Linked DNA regions of Homo sapiens: region 2 is linked to region 1. The links come from fine-mapping of genetic effects on gene expression. Tissue or cell type: caudate. Region 1 holds a variant in brackets; the other region holds the start of a gene. All regions are shown on one strand. Distances are from middle to middle.

Region 1 (5,004 bases):
AGTAGAGACGGGATTTCACCATGGTCTGGATCTCCTGACCTCGTGATCCGCCCGCCTCGGCCTCCCAAAGTGCTGAGATTACAGGCGTGAGCCACCGCGCCTGCCCAGGAGAAACTTAAGTTTATAGTTTGTAGTTTAAACAAAGATGGTAACAGCCTTTTCCCAAAGCAGACCTCCTTCTCGCCTGGAGACTATATTGCCTTTGTAGGACTAACAGTAGCCACAAGATTGGAAATTATGGTTTAAGGGTCATGCAGCTGGAGGTTATAAGATTCTGACCCTCCCTGAACTGCTCCTAAGATCAGTGCTTGATTTTGCAGAGCCTGCACATGATGGATCAGCTGGCCCCACCCAGATCAATGAACTGGCTCATCTGATCTCGTGCCCCTCCTCCCCAACCCAGTAACTGACTGCGTAAGAAGACGGCTTCTACTCCCTATGATTTCATCTCTGACCAATCAGCACTCCTGATTGGCTTCCCCTCTTCCACCAAGTTATCCTTAAAAATTCTGCTCCCTGAATGCTCAAATGCTCAGAGAGGCTGATTTGAGTAATAATAAAACTCTGGTCTCCCACACAGCCGGCTCTGAGTGAATTAGTCTTTCTCTATTGCAATTGCCCTGTCTTGACGAATCTGCTCTGTCTAGGCAGCGGGCAAGGTCAGGTCAACCCCTTGGGCGGTTACAAAACCGCCTTTGCAAAAATTATAACTGAGGAAATTATGGCAGTGAAAGAGATCAGATCTAACTGACTCCATCTTGCTTCTGACCTTCAAGCTGTCCTTGTACATTCTTGGGTGGATGCCAAACTAACTTTGGGAAGGAATTCAGTTCATGATTTGACTCTGAAACAAAATTGGTAATAGCCCTTTCCCAAAAAGACACAGAGAAATTTAATATAGCAGGCTCCAACTTCCTTGTAAACTCATAAGCTAACTGCCCTTGCCAATTCCTGGGCAGGAACTCCTGGGAGGAATTTAGTTAATAATTTAACCTTAAAGCAAGGATGATAGCAGTCCCTTCCCAAATTACCCTCTCCTTGTTTGGGTACTGACATTGCCTTTGTAAAACTTATGAAAGGCCATAAGATTAGAATTATAGGTGGGTCCTGAATTCTGCGACGACCTATGCAGAGTTTAATAATAACTAGCCATTGTTTTCTAATTTGCTTACTGCTCAGAATTCATACAGCTAGTGGTCACGAGATTTATAATTTCTCTAGTTGCCCCTATAGGTAACATCACTATTGTAAAACCTAACATTGGTATTTGTGATATTTTTCAGGCATTGCATTCTGGTGGAACAACTGATGCCACCCAGACTTGTGACCCCCACCCAGGAACTGACAGAGGCACAGAGACAGTTTTGATAACCCTGTGGTTTCATCCCTGACCAAACCAATCAGTATTTCCCATTCCCTAGCTCCCTGCCTGCCAAACTATCCTTAAAACCCTAGCCTCCGCATTCTCTGGGAGGCAGATTTGAGAATTGTCTCATCTTCTCGCTTGGCTGGCCTTGCAATTAAACATGTTCTTTGCTGCAAAACCTGCTGTTCTCAGTGCATTGGCTTTTCTGGGCAGTGGGCAAGAAGAACCTCTTGGGCTGTTACAAAACCATATGATGATCTCAAAAAATGCACCCACAAGAAAGGCATTTGAAAAGAAAGTCTAGGTCAGGCGCAGTGGCTCACACCTGTAATCCCAGCACTTCGGGAGGCTGAGGTGGGTGGATCACGAGGTCAAGAGATCGAGACCATACTGGCCAACTTGGTGAAACCCCGTCTCTACTAAAAATACAAAAAAAAAATAGCCAGGTATGGTGGCGAGCACCTGTAATCCCAGCTACTCAGGAGGCTGAGGCAGGAGAATCACTTGAACCCGGGAGGTGGAGGTTGCAGTGAGCCGAGATTGCGCCACTGCACTCCAGCCTGGTGACGGAGCGAGACTCCGTCTAAAAAAGAAAAAGAAAAGAAAAGGAAGTCTAACATCATTTATGATAAAAACTGTCAGTATACTAGTAACAGAAGAGAATATCCTCAACCTGATAATTGATATCAGTAAAATACCTACATCTAATATCATATTTAATGGTAAGAGACTCAGTGCTTTTCCACTGAGAAAGAGAACAAGGTAAGGATATCTGTCCTTGTCACTCCTATTCAACATTGTAATGGAACATTACATTAAGATTATAAAAAAGCATATAGATTGAAAAGGAAGAAATAAAACTATACTAACAGATTACATAATCGTCTATATAGAAAATCTCAAAGAATCTACAAAAATGTCCTACTATAAGTAATAAGCAACTTAGCAAGGTCACAGGATATGTG[G/A]TCAATAAAAAACCAATTTTAATTCTGTACAGTGAAAATTGGGGCAAGGAGTGGTGGCTCACGCCTGCAATCCCAGCACTTTGGGAGGCCAAGACAGGCAGATCATGAGGTCAGGAGATGGAGACCATCTTGGCTAACATGGTGAAACCCTGTCTCTACTAAAAATACAAAAAAATTAGCTGGGCGTGGTGGTGGGCGCCTGTAGTCCCAGCTACTAGGGAGGCTGAGGCAGGAGAATGGTGTGAACCTGGGAAGCAGAGTTTGCAGTGAGCTGAGGTCACGCCACTGCACTCCAGCCTGGGCAACAGAGTGAGACTGTCTCAAAAAAAAAAAAAAAAAAAAAAAGAAAAGAAAAAGAAAGTTGGAACTTGAAATGTTAAAAACCGTCTGGGTATGGTGGCTCATGCCTGTAGTCCTAGCACTTTGGGAGGCCGAGGTGGGTGGATCATGAGGTTGGGAGTTCGAGACCAGCCTGGCCAACATGGTGAAACCTTGTCTCTACTAAACATACAAAAAAATTAGCTGGGTATAGTGGCGTGAGCCTGTAGTTCCAGCTACTCGGGAGGCTGAGGCAGGAGAATCACTTGAACCTGGGAGGTGGAAGTCACAGTGAGCAGAGATCGCAGTGAGCCGAGATCGTGCCACTGCACTCCAGCCTGGGCAACAGAGCAAGACTCTGTCTCAAAAAAAAAAAAAAAAAAAGACGAAGAAATGTAAAAATCATTGTGGCCAGGCGCAGTGGCTCACGCCTGTAATCCCAATCCCAGCATTTTGGGAGGCCGAGGTGGGTGGATCACGAGGTCGGGAGATCGAGACCATCCTGGCTAACACGGTGAACCCCATCTCTACTAAAAATACAAAAAATTAGCCGGACATGGTGGCGGGCGCCTGTAGTCCCAGCTATTCGGGAGGCTGAGGCAGGAGAATGGCATGAACCCGGGAGGTGGAGTGTGCCACTGCACTCCAGCCTGGGCAACAGAGCGAGACTCTGTCTCAAAAACAAAAACAAAAACAAAAAACAAACAAACAAAAAAACCATTGTAATGTGAAGTACCATTGAAATGTAAAGTACCATTGCCAGTTGCAGTGGCTCATGCCTGTAATCCTGGCACTTTGGGAGGCTGAGGTGGGTGGATTGCTTGACCCTAGGAGTTCAAGACCAGCCTGGGCAACATGGGAAAACTCAGTCTCTACAGAAAAAAATACAAAAAATATCTGGGTGTGGTGGTGCATGCCTGTAGTCCTAGCTACTTGGAGGCTTAGCTGGGAGGACCACTTGAGCCCCAGGAGGTTGAGGCTGCAGTGAGCTGTGATGGTGCTGTTGCTGGGCTTTTCCTTAGTTCAGCTAAAGATGGAGTCCTTGTCACATGGCCATGAGAATCTAGGCTTGCAGACAATTTGAAGAATGAGAAAAATGGGATTTATTGGGCCAAATGGGAAACAGAGGGAAACAGGGACTCTCAGCAGAGTGAAAGTACTGTTAGTATGTGCTTCCTGCCTCATGGATTGAATTGCAGGTTCCACCCAGGTAAAGGAGGGGCCAGGCTCCTCCCCACTGCAAACAGCAGGAACTTCTGTGTCTCCATCCCAATGTGCACTCCTCCCAGTGCACAGGCTGGTTGAAGTTTCTCTGGGGACCCCTTCCCATCTGGCTGTCTCAGTGCCATTGCACTCCAGCCTGGGTGACAGAGTGAAACTTTGTTTAAAAAAAAAAGTATCCTTTATGATAACACCAAAAGATGTGAAATAGGTATAAATCTAACAAAATGTGTGCAGCAGATTTACACAGAAAACTACAAAACCCTGATGAGAAAAATCAAAGGAGACTAAAACAAACGACAAGATATATCATGTTCATGGATAAGAAGACTCAATATTATTAAGGTGTCTTAAATTGATCTGTACATTCAGTGCAATTGGTTTTAAAGTTCTAGCAATATTTTGGTAGTCTACAAGCTGATTCTAAGAATTACGTGGAAAAGAAAAGGAACTAGAATGGTCAAAACAATTTTGAAAAAGAAGAAGAAGTCTAGGTGCGGTGGCTCATGCCTGTAATCTGAGCACTTTGGGAGCCAAGATGCATCACTTGTGGCCAGGAGTTCAAGACCAGCCTGGGTAACATAGAGACACCCCATCTCCAGAAAAACATTTTTCAAATTAGCTGGAGGCTGGGTGCGGTGGCTCACGCCTGTAATCCCAGCACTTTGGGAGGCCAAGGCGGGCAGATCACAATGTCAGGAGATCGAGACCATCCTGGCCAACACAGAGAAACTCTGTCTCTACTAAAAATACAAAAAATTAGCCAGATGTGGTGGTATGCACCTGTAGTCCCAGCTACTCAGGAGGCTGAGGCAGGAGAATCGCTTGAACCTGGGAGGTGGAGATTGCAGTGAGGAAAACAAAAGAAAATTAGCTGGGTGTGATAGTGCACACCTGTGGCCCTAGCTACTAGAGAGGCTGAGGTGAGAGAATTGCTTGAGCCCAAGAGTTAGAGACTGAAGTGAGCTAAAAACAAACAAACAACAAAAACAAACAAACAAACAAAGTTGGAGGACTCATAGTACCTGATTTCAAGTCTTACTACAAAGATAGATAATCAGGGTAAAGTAATATTGGCAAAAGGATGGACACATACATCAGTGGAACAAAACAGAGTCCAGAGAATGATCCACA
Region 2 (5,004 bases), 310 kb before region 1:
CTCCCAAAGTACTGGGATTACCGGCATAAGCCACTGTGCCCAGCCCTGTAGCATTATTTCTAACAACAAACAATTAGAAAAATTAAACACTGCCTATTCTTTTTTTTTTTTTTTTTTTTTTTTTGAGACAGGGTCTCACACTGTCATCCAGGCTGGAGTGCAGTGGCGCTATCTTAACTCACTGCAACCTCCACCTCCTGAATTCAGGTGATCCTCCCACCTCAGCTTCCCAAGTAGCTGGGACTTCAGGTGTGCACTACCACATCCAGCTAATTTTTGTATTTTTTTGTAGAGATGGGGTTTGGCCATGTTGGCCAGGCTGGTCTCAAACTCCAGGACTCAAGCGATCCACCCACCTTGGCCTCCCAGAGTGCTGGGATTACAGGTGTGAACCATCATACCTGGCCCAGAAACTGCCAATTCTTTTTTTGGAGATGGAGTTTTGCTCTTGTCGCCCAGGCTGGAGTGCAATGGCATGATGTCGGCTCACTGCAACCTCCACCTCCTGGGTTCAAGTGATTTTCCTGCCTCAGCCTCCTGAGCAGCTGGGATTACAGGTGCCTGCCACCAGGCCCTGCTAATTTTTTGTATTTTTAGTGGAGACAGGGGTTTCACAATGTTGTCCAGACTGGTCTCGAATTCCTGACCTCAGGTGATCAGGCTGCTTCAGCCTCCCAAAGTGTTGGGATTACAGGCGTGAGCCACCGCGCCTGGCCTAGAAACTGCCAATTCTTAAGCAATGTAAGGGCATTTAGTATGTACCAGGCACTGAGCTGAGCAATTAAAATATAGAGTAAGAAAGAAGATCCTGCTCTACAAATAGATGGTAATAACAATAAATCCATAGCTTTTAATTCCAAGAATCTCAGCTGAAAAAAAACCTTCATAAAATTGTACAATTGTATTTGTGAATATCAGTCATAGCGTGCTATTTTAGGATAATCCAAGTCCCAGTTGAGGTTAAAACAAGACAAATATCTGTTCTAGTAAGTCCCACTTGCTCAGCCTAGGTGGTCCCTCAAAATGTTCTCTTCACTGAGAATGGCCCAAGGGGCTGTTTCTCATACCTGAGCCACCTGACAGCAGATGCTGGCACAAACAGCGGGAACAGTGCCAGACTCGCACACACCAAGGCTTTGTGGAGAAGAGGGCCCACCAGGTGCGGCAAGGGATATAGGCAGAACTTCCTGGGAAAGATGGAAGGGAAAGCAAATGATAGGGTCTAAGAAGGTCCCTCCTACCTCCAACAAGCTGGATTTGAGGCCAAGCTCTGTCACATCCTGGAAGTATGACTTTGGGGGTTACAGGACCTGTCTAAGGATCAGATTCCTCATTCATAAAGCGGGTCTGTTATAAAAATCAAAATTGTAGTGTATGGGAAAATGTCTTGTGAAGTAGAACATACCATAAAATAGGAAGGATTATTGTTGTATTACTGATAGAAGTGAGGGATCAGTTAAGGGGAGGAGCCAACATATATGGAGAACCTGGAGATTTACTCATGTTTCTCATCTAATCCTCTCTACAGATCAGAAGCAACACTGCCTTTAGTGTACAATCATTTCTACTATGCTACTACCCCTCAGAAACTGAGGGTCAGTTGGAGGGGTTAGGTGCACAGTCTGAGGCCACACGGGAGTCTGGCAGAACTGCAATGTGAACCCAGGCTTGTCATGATTCCAAATTTTTCCTTGATATTGTGCTACTTCCCGGGTTGGGAACTGAAAATTAGAATGGAGGGCTTGCTAGGCATCTGCAAAAATAGTGGGCGTGGGGAGGAGCAATGGGGCAGGAAATGCGACTCACCAGTGAAACTGTCATCCTGAGGCACAGGGCCCAGTAGGGAAAAGAAAGGAAAGAGCTATTATTAGGAGAGACTCCCATAAGGCACATTCCTGGGGTCTTTGCTTCAAATCAGCAAATTCTGAGCCCCATAGCTAATAGCCCATACCTTCTGGCTCTTATCTTCCCAGCTCCACCCTGTCCAGGCCCTCAGCACAAAGGACCTTGGCTACCCCTTTGAGACTAGGTAGAGGACACATCAAAGCTGCCACCAGAGCACAGGGACTGCGGAGGTAGCACAGGGCAGGCAGGGGAGTGGGGAGCTTTATGGCTGTGCCAGGCAGGTGTCCCTACCTGGCAGCAGCACCTTACCGTGTGGGAGGCCAGAGGACAGCGGGTGTTCCAGTGGGGCAGGTGGCGAAAGCCAATCCCAGCAGAGTCAGAGAGGTCGATGACTATGAGGAGGAGAGGCAGGAGCAGGGCTGCCAGTCTGGAGCTCCCCATGGGCTTCTGTGCAATTAGGGCTCCCGGAACATGGCTGCATGGCCTGAAGGTGGGTGGCAGGGCCTTGCTGTGCAGCAGCGAACACAGTACCAGCAGGAGCCCTCGCCCCAGCCTGCCCTGGCCCCGCCCTGCCCGAAAGCTCCTCCTTGATCCCAACCAGCCAGCCAGGCCACATTCCTTCCCCTCCAAGTGGAGGGACTGAGGAAAGCTTGTGCCCCCAAAAACCCTACTGCCCCCCACCTGAAAGACAAGGGGCTCCTGCTGTGGGTGAGAAGTAACAGGAAAGGGGCTAGCATCAGGTTGGGGGACGCACCCATTTCTTAGCCCCTCCTACTCCTGAAACACACTGCAGATCTGATCCACCCATCAGCACACTCTGGAACTTGTGTCTCCCATAGACATGCGCTTCACCCCCTCACTTAGAGAATTAGCCGAGCTCTTAAGCACTACTCAGCACTGGGTGCTGGAGATACAGAGGTGACTGAGGCACCATTTAGAGTGGGGAAGAAAAAAAGCACTCTAGGATGCACATGAAGCCCATATGTACCCTGGCTTCCCAACTGGTTAACTCTCAGGACTATAGCCGAGTTCTCTCTACCCATGAGCCAGGTCCAGCTCTTCTAGGCAAAGGGCTCCATACCAAAGGGGCCTCTAGCTTCAAGGACCCACTAGTCAGTACGCCCTGCTCAGGAAGCCCCAGAGCTCACAGCTGAGCCCTGGAGCAGAGGGAGCGGGCCCCACACACTGACCTGGTTTCCTGTGGTTTCCGGTGCTGGAGAAAGGCTGACGAGGCTCCATCTTTGTGGGAACCCTCCCCATCATCCCACAGCTTCCTCCCCTTCATGGAGCATTTGAGCAGCTTCAGCCCTCACCTTGGTAACACACACACTGGAAAGAAAGTTTGGGGCACACCTACCAGGTCAAGGCATCTTTTTTTTTTTTTTTTTTTTTTTTTTTGAGACTGAGTCTTGCTCTATTACCCAGGCTGGAGTGCCGTGGCACAATCTCTGCTCACTGCAACCTCCACCTGCTGGGTTCAACCGATTCTCTTGCCTCAGCCTCCTGAGTAGCTGGGAGTACAGGCACCTGCCCCATGCCTGGCTAATTTTTGTATTTTAGTAGAGACAGGGTTTCACCATATTGGCCAGGCTGGTCTCGAACTCCTGACTATGTGATCCACCTACCTTGGCCTCCCAAAGTGCTGGGATTACAAGCGTGAGCCACGGCGCCCAGCCAAGGCATCTTGAGATTGTTATTGTCCCCCTGCAATTCAATCTAGACCACCTTTCAGTGGCCTAACCACAGCCTGCTTTTGGCCAATTCTATTCCTGTCTTTAGGTTCATTGTCTGAAGGCTGCATCCTACCCATTATCCTAAAAGTACCCTCTAGCTTTTTGAGTTCATGAAAAGATAAAAACTCTTATTCTTTATGTTTCTCCAAGCCTAGCAGTAGATATTATGAAGTATGTGCTGTGTAATTGAATAAATGTCATGATACATTTCATCTATGTAGTTTATCTGTTTCACACTTCACAAAACACTTTTATATTTAATCCTCCTAACCCTACCTGTGAGACAGGTAAGTGTTAATTATTGTTTTCATTTCATAGAGAGATAAGGAAGCAGAGGGATAATGATTTGGACAAGGTCAAAGTCTATAGTTCAGGGAGCTCCCCTTTTGCTAGGCCCTCGCAACTCAACTCTCTCTTTTTTTTTTTTTTTTTTGAGACAGAGTCTCACTGTGTCACCCAAGCTGGAGTGCAAATGGTGCAATCTCAGGTCACTGCAATCTCCACCTCCCAGGTTCAAACGATTCTCCCGCCTCAGCCTCCCGAGTAGCTGGGATTACAGGTGCACGCCACCACACCAGACTAATTTTTGTATTTTTAGTAGAGACGGGTTTCACCATGTTGGCCAGGCTGGTCCTGGACTCCTGACCTAAGGTGATCTGAGCCCAGCTTGGCCTCCCAAAGTGCTGGGATTACAGGCATGAACCACAGCACCTGGCTTTTTTTTTTTTTTTTTTTTTTTGAGATAGTCTTGCTCTGTTGCCCAGGCTGGAGTGCAGTGGTGTGTTCTTGGCTCACTGCAACCTCCGCCTCCTAGGTTCAAGTGATTCTTGTGCCTTAGCCTCCTGAGTAGCTGGGATTACAGCTGTGCACCACTATGCCTGGCTAATTTTTGTATTTTTAGTAGAGACAGGGTTTTGCCACATTGGCCAGGCTGGTCTTGAACTCTTGGCCTCAAGTGATCCACCTGCTTCAACCTTCCAAAGTGCTAGGATTATGGGCATGAGCCACTGTGCCCGGTACCAATTCTCTATCATCCTATGGTCTTCCCTCACACAGCCTCATCTTCCTCTGCTCTTGGAACCCAAAAGGGGCTGCCTGACACAGACCCTAACACAGTATGCCTTTTGGCCTTGAAGTCCATCTCTGCAAACAAAACAGTAAGATCTGAAAGGAGGAAAGGGTGGTCTGGCCATACTAAGAATAGGTTAGAGAGCCTTCCCCCAAATTCTACCTAACTCACAGTGGTTTAGAGCTATATAAATATGAGGTTTCTTTCTTTTCTTTTTTTTTTTTTGAGACAGAGTCTCACTCTATCACCCAAGCTGGAGGACAATGGCGCAATCACCACTTACTGCAGCCTCAACCTCCTGGACTCAAGTGAATCCTCCCTTCACAGGCACACACCATTTTGCCTGGCTACATATAG

Evidence for each region. PIP is the estimated chance that this variant, and not a neighbour inherited with it, causes the effect.
Region 2: it holds the start of IL17RE, and the variant in region 1 is the best candidate, but not a certain one, in a credible set for the expression of IL17RE in caudate (GTEx, PIP 0.86).

What each region holds. Positions count from the first base shown.
Region 1 is chr3:9,594,943-9,599,946 of GRCh38, reverse strand. LOC105376949 (a long non-coding RNA gene) reads left to right here. Exons shown (of 3, transcript XR_940586.1): 2 at 321-414; 3 at 1,284-1,526. Among named protein-coding and RNA genes, the nearest start is that of LHFPL4, 44 kb to the right of the region's middle. The variant G/A (reference allele first, on the strand shown) is at 2,332.
Region 2 is chr3:9,900,215-9,905,218 of GRCh38, reverse strand. It overlaps IL17RE (interleukin 17 receptor E), which reads right to left and starts at 2,371. Exons shown (of 16, transcript NM_153480.2): 1 at 2,155-2,371; 2 at 1,807-1,822; 3 at 1,068-1,187. The coding sequence starts at 2,286. RefSeq lists an enhancer at 1,498-2,167.